2 separate regions of the Homo sapiens genome follow, and region 1 is linked to region 2. The links come from fine-mapping of genetic effects on gene expression. A gene starts in region 2. The other region holds a variant in brackets. All regions are shown on one strand. Distances are from middle to middle.

Region 1 (9,377 bases), 40 kb after region 2:
GTACTCGTGGACTGAGCAGGCCCCGTTCAGCCCTTTGTGTGAGGACAGGCTCCCTGGGGATGAGGAAGCACAAAGTGACTGGCTGCTTCAGCTGAGCTGAAGACCCTGTGGAGACCCCAGCCCGGATGCCACCTCCCAGAGGGCCAGAGTCCTCCTTCCCCAGAGTGGTGAGTGACGACATTCCGCAGACTGGTGCGGGTAGTTGGGCACTGAGAGGTGGGACGGCGCTCAGGGAAAACAGCATCTGCCAACAACCTAGCACAGAGCACTCTCGATGCAGAGCCCCAGGCTGCCGGGAGCCAGGAGCAGGCAGGGGTGGGCTCTTTCTCTGTATTTATGTTTTCACTCTTCAATTCCATTTTTGCCTCACTTCATTGAAACGTTATTCATCGTTTACTAAAACAGACTCCAGATCTACTCTCGGTTACCAGGGACCTTCTAATTATCGAATTCTCACCCTCTCCACTGACCATACTCAGCTGTACTTTCTCAGCTTCTGGGCACCGGGCACCACTTTTGGGGCACCGTCCCCTGCGGACCATGCCTTCTCAGCTGAACGAGGGTCTCTTCCCCTCTCAACTGCTGGACCAAGGGGAGGCCAGGTAGGTGCCTGTCATTTCTGGGTACCCAGCATCTAAAACTCTTCCTATTTGGAGGGAATTCAAAGATAGGGGGAAACAGCACCCTACCAACCACCCCAGTGGCCAGAGTTGGGGGTGAGTGGCAGACATTCCCTCTCGAGCTCCCTGGTGTCTCAGTAGTGCCTGTGGCCATAGCTCAGTCCATTGGCTACTCTGGAGTGACGTGAGGTCCACAGGACAGTGGGAGTATCCAGGGGTGACAATGCCTGGGGCATAGCCTCATCAGACCTTGACTGGGGTGTAGTCCTGGCTGCGTCTCCTTCCTTCCAGGGCTGGTTTCTACTACCTGTACCTAATAGCCCCACCAGGCCCAGCATATGGATAATGACTGTCCTTCAATTTCATTGTAAATTGTGCCTTGTGCCTTATGGGAACCCCAGCTTTGGCACATTGCCAGGAGTGGAAGCAAATGCACCCCACTGTGACATACTGAGATGCTTCATTACCACCTGCCGACCCGAACCAAATCTACCCCAGCCAGGGTGGAATCACATTAGGAAAAAATGTCCTGTAACACATAAACGACCGTGCTTACAGACCAAAGCAGGGCTGGTCTCTCCTACCTCTAGAGAGGATTTTGGCAATTGACTGTGCCAAGGACGGCTTTTCAGCAACCATGAGCACAGTCTTCATTTTGTCTCGGTCCTTCACACTCCAGTTTCGGGGCACTGGCAATGAAAAAGTTTAGACTCCACTCTTCCGCAGCACAGCACTATTACCAATGCTGACTCCTAAAGAGAAGAAAAGACACTCAGGATAGCAATGCTGTCAATAGAACCTACACCACTACAAGGAAAATCACTTTAACAAAGAAAAAACAAGACCAACCTGAGGCAAGAAGAAGAAAAATTAGGGAATTAGGGAAACTTGAAGACATCTGAGATTAAAAACAAGAAAAAACTACCAGGTCAGCTGAAGTGGCTGAGATGATCCTGGGAATGTGGCTCCATTTGGGGGAAGGTGAAGTGGCCCCAGTGATCTCAGGTCAATTTTATTCCTAAATCCATGCTAGGAAGATGCTGGGGCCTGGGGATCTGGAGTGATGGGTCAGGCCAGGTGGATGCCTGGCCCTCCTCTCTGGACTGGCTCTTCCACCTACAGGTGGACTCACCTGGAAAGAGGAACTATCGTGGCCGAGAGCAGCACCTCCCGCTCAGCAAAGCACTTGGACGCCCCAGGACACTTTACAAAATGCAGATGCCCAGGCTGGGCCCCCCAGGTCCTTCTGATCCATGATGGGCCTGAGACCCTCTGGCTAGTCGGTCCAGCCCCAAGCAGACATCAGGACTCTGTCACATCTATCTCCCACCTATTCCACTCCACCTTTTGCTTTGCAGGTCATGCTCTGGCCAAATTAAATCAAATATCATCATCGAAGCAAACACGCACTTGAAGCCTCTGTGCCTGCGCTTCCCTGCCTGAGAGAAAGCTCCGCCAGGCCTGGAGGATGCAGCTGGATGGCCCACAGGCCCAGCTCAAGTCTCCCAACACCACTGGCAGGGTAAGTCAGCCCTCCTGTGCCCACAGCTCTTGGGCTAGGTCTCCATTCCAACCCACTCACATCATGCCATCATCAGCGACTACTTCACCCCCAAAATAGGACACGATGGGCTTTGTGTCTGAATCACTGTTGGTCTTTGCAACAGCTTTCTGTGCCTGACACATGACATTCAATACCTGCTAGCCAAGTAAAAGAAAACCACATGAACCCTTTTTGTTTTTTCAGTCATTATAAATGTAGCACTGATGTTTATAAACATAGCACCGTATTAAAAAAGAAAAAAAAGACTCGTATTGAGACAACTGGGAAATCTGCTGTGAAAAAAAATAAAGTTAGACTCCTGCTTCCTAAATCCCACTAAAACCGATTCCAGATCTAGCAAAGGTTTGAGTAGAAACAATGAAACCAGAAAATATTAGGAAAAACATGTGCTTTTAAAATAAATCTCACAAGCCAGGTGTGGTAGCACATGCCTATAGTGTCAGCCACTCAGGAGGCTGAGGCAAGAGGATCGCTTGCTTGAGGCCAGGAATTCAAGGCTGTTGTGTGCCATGACTGCACCTGTGGATAGAACAGCCACTTCACTCCAGCCTAGGTGACAGCAAGACCCTGTCTCAAAAAAAGTAAAAGCAAAATAAAATAATCTCAGCATAAAGAAAAACTACCACCTAGATGGGCACAGTGGCTCACGCCTGTATCCCAGCACTTTGGGAGGCTGAGGTGGGTGGACCACTTGAGGTCAGGAGTTCAAGACCAGCCTGGCCAACATGGCAAAACCCCATCTCTAATAAAAATACAAAAATTAGCTGGGTGTGGTGGTGGGTGCCTATAATCCCAGCTGCTTGGGAGGCTGAGGCATGAGAATCGCTCGAACTCAGGAAGTGGAGGTTGCAGTGAGCCGAGATCATGCTATTGCACTCCAGCTTGTACAACAGAGTGAGACTCCATCTCAAACAAAAAAAAAAAAAAAAAAAAAAGGGAAAACCACCACGTAAGTACCTTTGTGGTATCACATCATGTCCAACAACACTCGCAGAAGAAACTCAGAACTACAATGAGCTTGTGCTTATCACATAGGGAGAGACTCAAAGTCGTTGCACACACAGCAGATGAGGGCATGGGGAAGTTAAATGGGAACAACCTCTATGTGCAGCAATTCAGGGATCCCTCTCAAAGTCCGAGTGCACATCCCAGCAATTCCACTCCTTGGAATGAACTTAATAGTCCAGTTATTTATTGAGTACCTACTGCATGCTTGGCCTAGTCCAGGATGCAGGGAATACAGCACAAAGCAACACCAGGTCCTGCCCTCCCAGAACTCATGCTGTAGTATGGGAGCAGGGGAGGGACAGGGCAGGGCTGGGTGACACCTGGGAGAAGAGTCCAGGCAGAAGGAGCAGGGAAGGTGAGGTCCTTGGGGAGGATATGGCTGGGCAGGGGGGCTCATGGGGCTGAGGGAGGGAGCAGGGGTGTAGAATGTGGGTCTGCTCTAGGGGTGCTGGGAGGCAGCAGAGGGTTTGCATAGGTGTGGGATAATCTGACTTCAAGTGTTAAAGGGACCTCTCTGGCTGCCACATAGAAGAGGATGAATGGGCCCTGGGTAGCAGTGGTGGAGGATGCGAGGGAAGTCAGAATCCAGGCAGACCTGGGATGGCGGGACATGGGAGGGGGAGGGGAAGGTGAGTCAAGAATGACCTGAGGCAGAGCTGGGCATGGGCTCACACCTGCCATGGGCTCACACCTATAATCCTAGTGCTTTGGGAGGCGAAGGCAAGAGGACCACTTGAGGCCAGGAGTTTGAGAAGAGCCTGATTAACACAATGAGACCTCATCTTTACAAAAAAGCAAAAGGAACAACCCATGGCTTTGGCTTAGGCATGACAGGAAGGGACTGGCAGTCTGATGTGGGACTTCAGGTGTGTTAAACGGGACCTGCCCATTGGACAGCCTGGGTGGCCTGGAGGAGGTGGCAGCAATGTGGAAGGAGCCCAGGCTGGGGGTCGGGAGATGAGGAGCTAGCAGGGTGAGTCAGGAGGGGTAAGGTCCTGAAAGCCACAGGAAAGAGCACTTCAGGGCAGTTATCACCATGTGGGGGACACTGACAGGCCAGGCGAGATGGCAGCTGAGACCTGACTGTAGGGTCTGGCAAACAGAGCCCTGGGTAATCCTGATGGGGCCATGTGGTGAGTGACAGATGAAAGCTGCATGGGGTGAGCTCAACAAAACCTGGGAGATGGGAGAAGGCTGGTGCACTGTCCCCTCTTGTTTCAGGATGGTGGCTGTGCCAGCATGTTCTCCGCTGATGGGACTGCTCTGGCGAGAAGGAAAAGAGAAGCTGCGTGCCGGAGGGGAAGGAACTGCTGCAGTGATGGCCTTGGGAGGGTGAGGGGCAAGAGAGGCAGCCGGTCAGCATCCAGGCGATGCAGAGCTGCCACAAGGCTGCACTTCTCTTGGTGGAGGAGGAGGCATGGTACGGCTGTCCACTGAGGGAGGACAGGTGGTGATGCTGCGGGCAGGCCCACAGCAGAGGAAGCACTGGATTTAGTTAGATGGGAGAGTCCAGGTGAGTAGGAGGGAGAGGGAGTGGGTCAGGGTTCGAGGGGAGAGATTACAAGGACAGAACCTGACTCTGAGTTGGGTGAAGAGGGAGGTGAGGGTTGGGGAGGGTCCACAGAGGGTGTGCTCTG[T/C]GGGGTCCAGGAAGTGAGGCACAAGAGCAGGAAGTGGGAGTCAAAGAAGCAACTCCCAGAGGGTGGGAGGCTCAAACAGGAATTACAGAGGGGCCTGGGTGGTGGCATGCTGACCCAGGGAGGGCAAGGGCTGTGAGACAGGTAGAGAGTGAAGTCACCTGGGGAGACTCACAGGAGTCAGTGGTGGGCCCTGACAAGACTGTCCATGTGGACTCTGAGTCCCCAGGAGGTAGGACAGGGCAGCGCTGGAGTGGCCTCAGGCTGGGCACGGTGGTGCCTGTGATGAACCACATCACTGGGGAGTTCTCTGCAGCATTATCAATCATGATAAAAGGTTAGAAACAAGCTGGTGTCTGTCAACAGGGAGGTGGTTAAATAAAAGCATGGCATTCTCTGGCCGGGCGCGGTGGCTCACGCCTGTAATCCCAGCACTTTGGGAGGCCAAGGTGGGCAGATCACGAGGTCAGGAGATCAAGACCATCCTGACTAACGTGGTGAAACCCCGTCTCTACTAAAAATACTAAAAATTAGCTGGGCATGGTGGCAGGCGCCTGTAGTCCCAGCTACTCGGGAGGCTGAGGCAGGAGAATGGTGTGAACCCGGGAAGCGGAGCTTGCAGTGAGCCGAGATTGCGCCACTGCACTCCAGCCTGGGCGACAGAGTGAGACTCCATCTCCAAAAAAAAAAAAAAAAAAAAAAAGCATGGCATTCTCTACAGTAGAGCACCTGGCAGCATTACAAAGGAAAGCATCTGCTTGGTACATACTAACGTGGATCAGATCACTGAAATAAATCATGCTAAGAAAGCTGGGCATGTAACGGTGTGTAGAGAGCACTGCCATCTGTGATCACACATATGTGTGCACACGTGTGCACTTGATTATGAAGAGGCGATATGTCTGGATGGAACGCAAAACAAACAGTCCAAGCAATCACCTGGAGTGGGTGTTAGGGCCTGGAGGTCAGGGCTGGGGGTGCCTCCTCACCACATTCCCTTTTGCACCTTTTACATTTAGCGCCTGGACACAGGTGACTGAGGGACAAGAACTAAGACAAGGGACTTTACAATAAAACCAGAAAAATAAAGGAGGGTTGTAAAGGGCATTGTTCAGAAAGGATGCCAAAGGAACTCCCTCACTAAAGGGGCTTCTGCTGCTCATCATGCTGTGCAGGGGAAGAGGTCCAAGGTCGGCCTTGGGCTGTCAACCTTGTTCCCCACTTAAGAGATCACAGGACTACAGTGAAATCAGTAATCTTGACCAGAAAGCTGTCCCAAATAAAATGACAATTTGCTTTTTTCCTCAAAATAAGTAAGTGGATGTTCCCCTTAAATGTACAACCATCCCACAGTGAAAGAGCCGAGGCCTTGTGGAATGACGACACTGTCTGCAGATGAGCTCTCTGGCCCATGACAGCTCCAGCTGCATCTCCCAAGGCTCTGCTGCGCACCCACCTTTCCTCCCTGTGCGCCAGCAGGCTTCGGCCTAGGCCACTTTTCCCCCTTAGTCTACTTGCTCTGACCCCTGCCCCTCCCCTCCTGAAGACTGCATCTGGCGTCAGCAGTCTGTCTCTCCCACAATTGTCAGGTTCATTGCCATATTTCTGGCACCCAGCATGCACTAAATGCCTGCTGAGGGAATGAATGAACAACCAAGGTGATTATGACTGGCCTCTGCTCTCCGTTCTGGGGAAGTTTTGATTCTACCAAAATCAGAGGCCCAGAAGTGAGGTTTAAAAGAGATTTAGGGACTCCCCTTCTCTCACCCTGGGAAGCCAGAGGCCAAAAGGGAAAACTCGCAGCAGAGGGGCATTGTTCTGTGAGGGTCTGAGTTTCCCATCTCTTCCAAAGTAGGAAATTTTGTCCTAAAATGTTTCCTCAGATTTTCTCATGTCTATGCCACAGAGTAGTCAGCAATTATGTATGACATAATGAGGACACACCAGGGACCAGGCAGTCCTGCCAGCATCCTAGGCAGGGATGCTAATAGGTGCTGCCATTTTATTGGCCTAGACTGGGACTGTGGGGTCAGAGAGACCAGAGCTCCAGTGGCTGGACTTGGTTGTTCTAGAACCCGTGCCCCAAGCCTGATCCTGTCCTGCCTCTGTGAGCACTCTGATGGAACAGCAGCCCAGCTTTGCTTCCTTGTAGCACTCATCACTACACTTGGTACAGCTTCCATCTACTTATTCAGCTCTTGTCTTACAGCTCCTAGAAAGTAAGTAAGCAGCAGGAGAACACGGGTTTTGCTTTGTGCATTCTCACGGTAAATAGACAGTGAGCAAATACTTTGCGAGGCTGAGGCAGGTGGATCACCCGAGGTCAGCAGTTCAAGACCAGCCTGGCCAACATGGTGAAGCCTGGTCTCTACTAAAAATACAAAAATTAGCTGGGCGTGGTGGCGCATGCCTGTAATCCCAGCTACTCAGGAGGCTGAGGCAGGAGAATCACTTGAACCCGGGGGCGGAGGTTGCAGTGAGCTGAGATCGCGCCACTGCACTCCAGCCTGGGTGACAGAGTGAGACTCTGCCTGCAACAAAACAAACAAAAAAAGAAACAAGCAGATGTGGCCTGGGAGTAGGCCTAGCAGTGGTCTGAATAGCATTAAAATTCCTAGGATTTACCACCTCAGTAACTTTACCAAATGCTTCTAGAATCAGGAAAAGAGGGAAACAACCATTTCTTAAGCTCCTCCTTTGTAGTAGGCACACCATAGCTATCAACACTATTCAATCTCGCCAGCAACCCCATAAGGCAGGTGTTGTAATTTTTTAAAACTGTGAGTAAATGGAGGTTCAGAACAAGTCACACTAGTGTCAGGTGACCTTGGCAAAAGAATCCCAGGACTGGCTGGCCATCAAGCCCAAGTTAGGCTGGCCTCTCAGGTCCTGTTTCAAAAGGTGAGAAGATAAAAAGGCAAGACTAGGAACATCTTACCTTTCACTTCTGCGAGAAATTATTGCCCCTGGATTCCAGCTAATTTGTTCACAAAAGTACCCTACTTCATTTACAGATAACAGGTCAGAGAACCTGGGTGCCCTCAAAACCCAGCCAGGGCCTAGGGGGCGGCGAGTGGAAGCTGCCTGGGTGTGTACCGCACCGATCTGGGCCCCGGTGGCTGCACAGCTTCCCTGAGCCTCAGTTTCCCTACCTGTGAGACTGGTACAGCAGATCTCACCCTAAAGAGCTGTGGGAGGGTTCGAAGAAGAAAAGTATTAACCACAGCGCCTGCTCCCTGCAGGCACATGGCGGGCCCATCTCCACCTCCCTGAACCCCCACAGCAAGCCCCGCGGGAGAGTATCACCCCCGCCAGGGAAGAGGCAACAAGAATGCAGAGCCCGGCCCGGGCGCTCTCCCGAGCTCGCGGGTCCTCCGCCGGCCAACGTTCAGGAAACAAGCCAGAAAAATGCGTGCGCTTCCCGCCTTTCTGAGCCGCCGGGCGAGGGTCCCGCAGCCCGCCGCTCACCCACAGCCGCACCGCGGATCCAGCTCCGGTCCTTGTTCCCGGGGCGGCTACCGACAACCCCTATTTCCGGGTCCAGCCGCTTCTGGCGTCCCCGCGTCCGGTGTGCCAGCGTCTGCCCTCCGGCTCCGGCGGGTCGGCGTTCTTAGGTTCCGTGGCTCGCGGATTCCGGGAGCACCCCAGGGAGTGGCACTTGCACGCCGCGGACCGCAGGGATCCCCAAGCCCTGCACCCAGATTCTTCCCCGCCACGGAGAGACAATCATGACAATTATCATTACAATGATTATGAAAACTGGCATGAAAACATTTATGCTGTTAATAATTAAAATAATAAAAATGTACCGATGTGTGTATAGCAGGCTTCTTTTCGATGCTGTAAAAAAATCTGTGGAATGAATGAATGATCTGTGTAAAATATATTTGGAAGATGAATTCTAAAATTAAGTTATTTATTTATTTATTTATTTATTTATTTTGAGACAGAGTTTTACTCTTGTCGCCCAGGCTGGAGTGCAGTGGTGTGATCTCGGCTCACTGAAACCTCCGCCTCCCAGGTTCAAGCAATTCGCCTGCCTCAGCCTCCTAAATAGCTGGGATTACAGGCGTGCGCCACCACGCCCAGCTAATTTATATGTGTATGTATATATATGTGTGTGTATACATATATATATATATTTTTTTTTTTTTTTTTGAGGCGGAGTCTCACTCTGTTGCCCAGGCTGAAGTGCAGTGGCGCAATCTCGGCTCACTGCAACCTCCGCCTCCCGGGTTCAAGCGATGATCTCGCCTCAGCCTCCCAAGTAGCTGGGACTATAGGCGCTTGCCACCACGCGGGCTAATTTTTTGTATTTTTTTAGTAGAGACGGGGCTTCACCGTGTTAGCCAGGATGGTCTCGATCTCCTGACCTCGTGATCCGCCCGCCTTGGCCTCCCAAAGATTTCTATATTTTTAGTAGAGACGGGGGTTTCACCGTGTTAACCAGGCTAGTCTTGAACTCCTGACCTTAGGTGGTCCGCCTCCCTCGGCCTCCCAAAATGCTGGGATTACAGGTGTGACTCTTCACGCTCGGCCAACTAATTTATT
Region 2 (9,377 bases):
AGAATCACTTATAATTGCCCATTAATTAGAAATACTATATATCCAATGACAAAGGAATAATACTTAAATTATGATCTAGTCTCGGCCAGGCGCAGTGGCTCACGCCTGTAATCCCAGCACTTTGGGAGGCCGAGGTGGGCGGATCACCCGAGGTCAGGAGTTCGAGACCAGCCTAGCCAACATGGTGAAACCCCGTCTCTACTAAAAATACACAAATTAGCCAGGCATGGTGGCGGGCGCCTGTAATCCCAGCTACTCGGGAGGCTGAGGCAGGAGAATCGCTTGAACCTGGGAGGCGGAGGTTGCAGTGAGCCGAGATCATGCCATTATGCTCCAGTCTGGGCGACAGAGCAAGACTCTGTCTCAAAAAAAAAAAAAAAAAAAAAAGATCTAGTCTCTTGATGAAGAATTAAGCTGCTATTAAATATGATTTTCATAACGAAATATGCAACTCCCATACGACCCCACCGTGGCACTCCTGTGGACTTATCCCAGAACAATGAAGGCTGTTCACATAAAAGCTTGAACACATGAACACAAATGTTCATAGCAGCTTTATCTGGAACAGCCAAAATCTGGAGTCAGCCTAGATGTCCTTCAACGTGGAAATGGTTAAACAAACCGTGGTCGACCCATACCTTTGAATACCACTCAAGAATGGCAAAGAATGAACTCCTGATGCATCAAACAACCTGGGCTAATCTCCAGAGAATTAAACCAGTCCCCTAAAGTTACACATCATATGCTTCCATTTATATGTGTTCTTGAAATAATAAAATGGTAGAAGCCGAGAAGATTAGTAGTTGCCAGTGGTTAGGGATGGGGTCTGTAGGGGTGGGGGTATAAGGGTGGCCTTAAAAGGGTGACAGGAGGGATCCTGGTGATGGAACTGCTCTGTATTTTGACCATGTTAGGATCCTGGTGGTGATATTTTATTATAGTTTTGCAAAATGTTACCATTGGAGGAAACTGGGTAAAGTATACATGGAATCTCTTTGTATTATTTATTACAACTGCATGTGCAGCTATGATTATCTCAAAACAAAAAGTTTAATTAAAAAAAACTAGCCCAGGCATAGTGGCTCATGCCTGTAATCCCAGCACTTTGAGAGGCTGAGGTGGGAGGACTGCTTGAGGTCAGGAGTTCAAGACCAGCCTGGATAACATAAAGAGACCTTGTCTCTTAAAAACAAACAGGCTGGGCGCCATGGCTCATGCCTGTAGTCCCGCGCTTTGAGAGGTAAAGGCAGGCAGATCACTTGAGGTCCGGAGTTCGAGACCACCCTGACCAACAAAGTGAAACCCCGTCTCTACTAAAAATACAAAAATTAGCTGGGCGTGCTGGCATGCACATGTAGTCCCAGCTACTTGGGAGGCTGAGGCAGGAAAATTGCTTGAATCCGGGAGGCAGAGGTTGCAGTGAGCCAAGATTGAGCCACTACACTCCAGCCTGGACAACAGAGCGAAACTCAGTCGCAAATGAACAACACCAAACCAAAAAAAATTAGCTGTGTGTGGTGGTATATCTACTCCCAGCTATTCGGGAGGCTGGGGCAGGAGGATCCCTTGAGCCAAGGACGTCGAGGTTACGGCGATCTCCGATTACACCACTGCATTCCAGTCTGGGTGACAGAGGGAGACCTGGTCTCTTAAAACAGAAAACTAAAAAATGGATTTTAATAGAGTTTATAAGCATGTAAAATGCTTCTGTCATGATACTAAGTGAAAAAAGAAGGAAAATTACATATGCAGTTTAACTACAAGTCCATGAAAAACCACCAGGGCCAGAAAAAAAAAAAGGCGGGAACAGCACACAACCAAGGTGTCAGAGTGGGCCTGCACGTGGCAGTTCCACGGACAGCTTTTTCCTGAAGTACACTTTCTTAATACTTCCCCAGTTTTTCATTACAAGTGTTAGTCTCGTGTGACAGTGGCTTTAAAGCATGTCCACAAATTCTTTGACTTCCCCTTTTGCGAGGTGGAGCTCACTTCCCACTGCTGAGTGTGGGAGCTGGCTGCTTCTGATGAAGAGTGGCAGTGACTGCGTGTGCTTCAGGTGTTACGAAACAAAGAGGCCCTGCGCCTCCCGCCTTGTGTATTCTCACTCTCTTCCTCCCTCCCTCTCATCGCTCAATCTGAGCTGTGAGGATGCTCAAGCAGCGCCACGGAGAGTCCACATGGGACGGGACCAGGGCCTCCTGTCAGTGGCCGTGTGTTGAAACCACCGTGGAAGCAGGCCCTCCAGCCCAGCCAGCAACCATGTCACCACAACCCAGTAAGAGACCCTGGACCAGAACCAGCTAAGCTGCTCCCAGATTCCAGACCCACAGAAACTGGGAGAATAAATGTCTGTTGTTTTAAGCCACTACATTTGGGGCAATTTGTTATGTAGCAACAAATAATATAAGCCACAATACTCATTTGAAAAGAAAAAATACCCAAATCCTACCTAAGCTTGGCTTCTCAAGAAAAGATCAACCAGTAACAGGCCCAAAGGAAACCATGGGGGCTCTGGCTTCAGGGACTCATGTCACTTCAATGCACAAACTCTCCTGGAACTCCTGCCAGCCCAGGTGCATGTGGCAAGCATGGTGAATCAGGGCCAGTCAGCCGAGGGCAGGAGTTGAGTGTCACAGGCCACACCCAAAGGACATGGGGAACTGAGAGGAGGAAAGAGCTCCTGCCTAAAGGCGGAGGCTGTGGAAGAAAAGGAGAAGGGCTGAGGCCAGAGGGGGCCACCGAGGAAGAACCATGAACGCGAGGGCTTATGCACGCAGGAGGTCACAGAAAGACAGGTTCTTGGGAATCCATGCATCAAGGCAGGGGTGGGGGCATCCAGAGCCAGCTGCTGCCGCCATGGCCAACACAGGGGCCTATTCAAGCATTTGGCAAGAACTGGGGACTGGCAAGGCTATGGGTGAAGGAGGGGCCTGAGAACTCATTCAGGCAGGCCCAGCTCAGGGAAGGCAGCTCCACACAAGTTTGGCCAGTGGATCCCCTGCAAACCAGCAGGAAACCCCCCTCGTCCTGCCAGTCCTTGTAGCGCTGCCTCCTCTTCCTCTCGTCTGAGGGCCACTGTGCCCAGAAAACTGCCCCTAAATGCCATGGACTCCTCCTCACTCCCTCTGGAAACTGTGGGCTCCTGGTGCTTACCAGGCCTGAGCTCGGGCTGGGGGAGACTCCGGCCGCCGCTGTGGCTCACGGTCTCGCCCCGGGTGCTACTGCTATTTCCAACAGCCGCTTAGCCTAGACTCTGCTCAGGAAAGGCCAGCGGCTGAGGCAGTGCTGCCCAGCCCACGGACTCCCCATGCCAAGGGCTGCAGCCCCGCAACCTCGCTTCTGGATTCTTCGCTGATCCAGTCACCGGGGAGGGGCTGACTGGCAGCCACACAGAGGTTTCAGCCACTCGCTGCTCTTCAGTGGCAATTCTTATAATACAATCCCCACTCTGACGCAATTTTGTAAGAATGGCTTGGAGTCCAAAAACTTGACTACATTCTACTTCCGTGACAGGGAGAGCATGATCAAGGCCGCTAGGCAGGCCTGCATGCGAGGCACTCTGACAGACGGGGAAGCAAGGGCAGGCGAGACTTCCTTCTAGCTGCGCCCTCCCTCCTTCCCAGGCCTGCAGGAGCCCCGAGCGTAGGACTGGGCTGGTGCCGGCGCAGCAACGCTCCTTCTCACCGGCAGGTGGCGCTGTCTCCCGCGTGGACGGACAGAGACCCATCAGGCGGGGAGGGCCTGGGCGGTGGCGGCGCCCCCTTGGTGGGGCCGCAGAGCGGAGGAGCAGCAGCTGCCACCGGCCGGAAGCCTGCTGGCTCGGCCGAGAACAATGGCCGCCTGTCACTGTGGACAGCTGTCTCCCAGGCTAAGGCAAGGCTGCGCTCCCAGGGAATGCGGGCAGGGAGCCAGGGCGGAGGGCAGAGGACGAGAGCGAGGAGGAGAGCGCGGGCACCCACTGATGCTGGCGGCCTCGGGTATTCGCTTTCTCTCTCTTCTCCCACCTTGTTCCTTTTCCCCGGATGCACGCATGCACTAGTAATGCCGAATTTAGAACAACAGGGAAAGGAAAGGAAATGGCAAAGGAAGGGAAAGGAAATGGCCGACAGGAAATGGCAAGGAAGGGAAAATCCACTGCAACTCTGCTGCCTGCTGGCCTGTCCAGGGACAACTATTCAGCTGGGTGGGACGTTGCTACCCCCTTGTGGCACCCCTGCTGCAGCCTGCGATTCTTACGCCCTGTATTTCTGGTCTAACATCAACCAACACTTTGGCGAAATATAATAAAATGAAATTACTAGGAGAATGAAAGAAAGTCACATGAAATAAAAGCCCTGCTTTTTAATGATTATATCCTCTGTGAAATGGATCTGCAGCCCTCTCCATTTCTGGGTTCCCCTGGCCACACCATGCTTATGGCTGTCCCAGGAGCAGGCTGACAGACAAGCTTCCACCAGCATCTAACCATGGGGCTCATGGACACCGTAGAGCGTCTCCACCCAACAGAATCCTGACTTGGGGGCAGCTGAGGCAGGGGGCCCGAGCGTTGAGGGGACCACGCTGCTGCCCCGAGACCTGCTGGCATGCCACCTGGCCAACCCTGACTTCGCCTGCCCGGGCGCATGTTAACTGAGTTACAACACTGAGGGCACTTGAACCTGGCTGCATGACCAGAGATCGATCACCTGTGAGATCCTCTGTGAAACGGGATAAGCATCTTTAATTTCCTGGGCTGTTCTGGAACTTCAGTCAGACAGGACACAGGAGGGTGTCTGCACCACCCACCCCTGCCTCGTGGGCTGACTGGGAACTATATGACCTGTGGAGGGCTGTGACCGCCACCCTCCACCTCACTGGGGCCGCAAGCCTTCTCTGCTCCTTGATTCTGCTGCCGTTGTGAGCGAGGGCCCCAGCACCCTTAGGGACCCCAATCAATGGGCTTCCCACAATGTCGTCACCCTTTGTTGCCTGCTAAGCAGCCCTGGGGCCACCTCAGAAGAAACAGAACTCACAGGTCACAGGGGCCTTTTCCTCCTCGTCATCGTCCTCCTCCTCTTCTTCTTCCTCCCTGGGCAACTTCCTGAATTCGGAAAGGTCTGTCTGTAGCAGCTGTGAAACTGCTTCGTGGGCCAGAGCAGCAGCAAGTGGTGGCGGGGCCTTCCTAGGGATGAGGAGGGGGAAGTGAGGGGCAGCCCCCAGCAGGAGACCACACCTAGCCCCCCTTCCCCAACTGTCAGCCCACATGCTGAGGGGTCACGGCCAGCAGGGCGGCCCCTGTCCTCAGGGAGCTGGGACAGGAAGGTCACAGGACAGCAAAGGCAGACGCACAACCATCTGGTGGGGAGCTGGACCATACTTGAGCCTGCGGCTAGTTGGGAGGGGGCTGTTGATGGGCAAGTAAACTGCCTGACATCCATGCTGATGATGGCTCCTGGCCACAGGAGGGCAGAGGAATCACCCATGCCAGCTGGGGACCCTGGGGGGTGGGGAGTGTTCTGGGTTGAATTGTGTCCCCCCTAAATTCATACACTGAGGCCCTAACCCCCAGTACCTCAGAATGGAGCTCATTTGGAAACAGGGTCATTACAGATGGAATTAGTTAAGATGACGTCATGCTGGAGCAGGCTGGGCCCCTACTCCAATGACTGATGTCTCTATGAAAAAGGGAATTTGGGCCGGGTGCGGTGGCTCACATCTGTAATCCCAGTACTTTGGGAGGCCAAGGCAGGTAGATCACGAGGTCAGGAGTTTGAGACCAGCCTGGCCAACATGGTAAAACCTCATCTCTACTAAAAATACAAAAATTAGCCGGGTGTGGTGGCGCATGCCTGTAGTTCCAGCTACTCAGGAGGCTGAGGCAGAAGAATTGCTTGAACCTGGGAGGTGGAGGTTGCAGTGAGCCAAGATTGTGCCACTGCACTCCAGCCTAGGCGACAGAGCAAGATGCTGTCTCCAAAAAAAAAAAACAGGTTGGGGGAGGAATTTGGACACAGACACACACACACAGAGAGAATGCCAGGGGAACATGAGGCAGAGACCTGGGGGATGAACCTACAAGCCAGGGAATGCCAAGGGTTGCCCACAAACCACCAGAAGGAGCCAGTTCTGTCAATATCCTGATCTCAGATGACAGCCTCCAGCACCATGAAGCACACTTCTGTTGTTTAAGCTGCTGGGTCTGTGGTCATTTGTACAGCAGCTCCAGGAAGCTGATCCTGGGGTGTGGGACCCATGGGCACACTCAGCAGAGGAAGTGGCTGTGCGTGGTCCACAAGGTCCCTGGGCGGATGGGGCCATAGGAGCTGCCGGGGTGAGGGGCTGTGGGAACAGGGCAGGCCAAGCTTTATGCTAACAGGGAAGCACTGCCATTGGTCTGTGTTTTATTTATTTATTTTTAGAGACAGGGTCTTGCTCTGTCTCCCAGGCTGGAGCACAGCTGTGCAATCATGGCTCGCTGCAGCCTCAAACCCCTGGGCTCAAGAGATCCTCTCACCTCAGACTCCAGAGTAGTTAGGGCTACAGGCAGTAGTTAGGGCTACAGACATCACCATGTCCAGCTAATCTGTAAATTTTTTTGTACAGGTGGGGTTTTGCTATGTTGTCCAGGCTGGTCTTGAACTCCTGCCCTCAAGTGATCCTCCCATCTCAGCCTCCCAAAGCCCTGGGATAATGGCGTGAGCCGCCACACCTGGCCGCCTTTGGTCTGTTTGAAGAGGGACATGGCATGATCAGATGGGGCTTTTAGGCCTCTCTGACCCTGGTGTGGAGGGTGGGCTGGCAAGAAGGGGACGACTGTCTAAAGGAGAGAGTCTAAGACCTGGGCTGGGCAGGGCCATGGTGACAAACAGGAGCAGACAGAGTCGGGCAGTATAAATGGAGGGGCAGGGACAGTGTTGAAGTTTCTATTCTGAGCAACTAGAAGGCTCGTGGTACAGTTAATTACCCTGATGGGGATGGAAGAGTCAGGCAGGGGATGGGCAATGGGCTCTGTTTCCACAGCGACTTGTGTTCCACGGAGGTCAAGAGGCCTGAGGGCCTGCAAGAACATGGTCTGGGCAGGAGATGGAGCTGCGGAATGAATGAGGATAGGGGGCTGAGTCCCACAGGGCCAGAGCATGGCTAGCAAAGTGGGGATGACTCCAGGAGTGGCCTTCTGGGTGCCACGAAGGAAATGTTTTAAGAAGTGAGATTGGGTCACTGCTTTCAATGTCATAGAACAGAGCTGAGCAGTTGAGGAGGCGTAGTGGGTAGAAAGGGAGGTCGCAGCAGGCTGAAAGCAAACCGACAGGAGGGTTAGCGTCTTTTAGCAGGTAGGCAGGGCAGAAGAGAGCCACGGGGCAGATCAGGGAAAGAAACACTGAAGCCATCTGTGGCTGAGAAGGAGGGCAGTGGGGAGGAGTGTCTAAAATTCTGAGCCATCCCTGGCTTTTCTGGGCAGAAGGGGTCGCTCCCTCAGTGGCCCTATGGCCTCTAACATGCATTTTGACCCCTGGAATCTGCCTTCTCACCCAGTGGGGGCCCTGGAAGCTGGACAACACACATTCACCCCTGTGTGCCTGTCCCTGAGAGTGGGGGTCAGGGGAGCATGCCTGGGGTGGCGAGGTGATTCTGCACTGGGCCGACACTCCCGGCTTTAACTGGAAGGCGAGGACCTTCCAACAGCACAGGCTGACAGGTCTTGTTCCATGGGGGCTGGGCACCCAAGGTATCTACTGATGGTCTGAGGAATCTACCGGGATGGATTCCTGATTTTTTTTTTTTTTTTTCTGAGACGGAGTTTCGCTCTAGTTGCCCAGGCTGGAGTGCAATGGCGTGATCTCAGCTCACCACAACCTCCACCTCTCGGGTTCAAGTGATTCTCCTGCCTCAGCCTCCTGAGTAGCTGGGATTACAGGCATGAGCCACCATGCTCAGCAGATTCGTGATTTTTAAAATGAAAGGGTGACTCATGGGAGAAGCCTCTGGAACTGCCTTTGAAAAACAACCAGCCAAGACATGAGAAATTAGTTCCTCTGCCATTTGGGGGTTTCCTGCCAACTGCTGGGTTTTCCTTTTGCACAGCAGGGAGGAAGGACGCCTGTTTCCCTTGGTCCCGGTGAGGCCAGGCCTCAGCTTCCTGCCCACCCGCCACTGCTGCTGGGGCAGGGAGGCAGTTTCCGGCTGTGGGGACCCAGACAATGCCTGGCCAAGGGCCACCATCGTCCTCTTCCTGGACACAGCTCCCGCCTCATCCCAGGGTCTGGCCTGGGACACGCCCTAGAGGCCCTCAGCCCTGAGTCACTGCACCATGCAGATCCACCCTGATTCTGGTCCCTGCAGAGCAGGCTCCTACACAAGGCAAGAAGATGCTCCAGGGACAAGCCAAGGTGTATGCAAGGCCCAGGTGCCTGAGAAACACGTCTCACCGACCTTGGGGCAGGGGCTGTTACAAGAGGCTTATAGTCTAGTGGCAGAGACAAAAACCACACTCAAATCATTAGTGTACGGTATGCACTGCTCAGGGACTCAAATATGTGACAGGAGGCTCCAAACAAGAGCGGAGACAAGGCGTAAATAGCCCCCTGTGGACTGGATGTTCTGACTCCTGGATGGCCTCCAGAAGGATGCCTTTTACGGTCTGTGAAAGAGCTCAGGGACCAAGATGCTCAAAGCCCTTCATGCCCAAGAGCCCCTCCTCAGGCTGGGACACGGGAAGCAGAGCTCGGAGGTGGAACTCGTGACTGTGTATGGGCACATGTGAGTGCGTGTGTGTGGACAGCCAGGCTTAGTGTAGACAACGTGTGAGGCTCAGACCCCAAGTGCTGACTACACCTATGCACATCCACACCTGCGTGTGAAAGAAGATGCTAGAAAAGAACAAAAATAACTTAAAAAATAAATCCAATAAGATGGCTGGAACATATAACAACTTCAAATACTCCATTTTAGTTCACCATGTAAGGTGGGTTCCTGGGGGCTGAGGAGACTCGGGAGCTCTGCACCCCTCCTGCTCGCACCCATCACTAGGTGGCTCACACAGCAGCCGCTCAACAAGTCTGGCTGCTCTCGCATCAAAACCAAAACCCACTGCCCTCCCCTGCGCCCCCAGCACTGACCCCAACACTTTGGTTCGGGGCCCTCCTGGGCAGGTCACCTGCACTGCCTACTCACTCCTCAGCCCTCCAGGCCCTCCCACCTTGGATCCTTCCCTGGGACCCTGCTCTGCGCCCTTCTCCCCCTGCCCAGGAACTGAAGGCTGATGTTGTCACCCCGGTGCTGCGGCCTGTCCGTCTTCAGCACCTGTGCCCCACGCAGGCCCAGCAAACCCCTGGGCTCTGTTGTTCCCCGGGATGGCTTTTCCATCTGATCCCCAGCTTGGGGCTGGCACCGCTTGGCTT

The links. PIP is the estimated chance that this variant, and not a neighbour inherited with it, causes the effect.
Region 1: its variant is fine-mapped to the expression of PPM1F-AS1 in whole blood (TOPMed, PIP above 0.99).

What each region holds. Positions count from the first base shown.
Region 1 is chr22:21,974,436-21,983,812 of GRCh38, forward strand. TOP3B (DNA topoisomerase III beta) reads right to left here and starts at 8,352. Exons shown (of 18, transcript NM_001282112.2): 1 at 8,295-8,352; 2 at 1,205-1,372; 3 at 1-53. The coding sequence starts at 1,274. RefSeq lists enhancers at 4,133-4,302, 7,753-8,739, 8,237-8,531. The variant T/C (reference allele first, on the strand shown) is at 4,830.
Region 2 is chr22:21,934,520-21,943,896 of GRCh38, forward strand. PPM1F-AS1 (PPM1F antisense RNA 1) reads left to right here and starts at 3,718. Exons shown (of 2, transcript NR_147620.1): 1 at 3,718-5,094; 2 at 6,583-8,915. It overlaps PPM1F (protein phosphatase, Mg2+/Mn2+ dependent 1F), which reads right to left. Exons shown (of 8, transcript NM_014634.4): 3 at 5,013-5,161. RefSeq lists enhancers at 3,335-4,141, 4,142-4,949, 4,950-5,756 and a silencer at 3,693-3,852.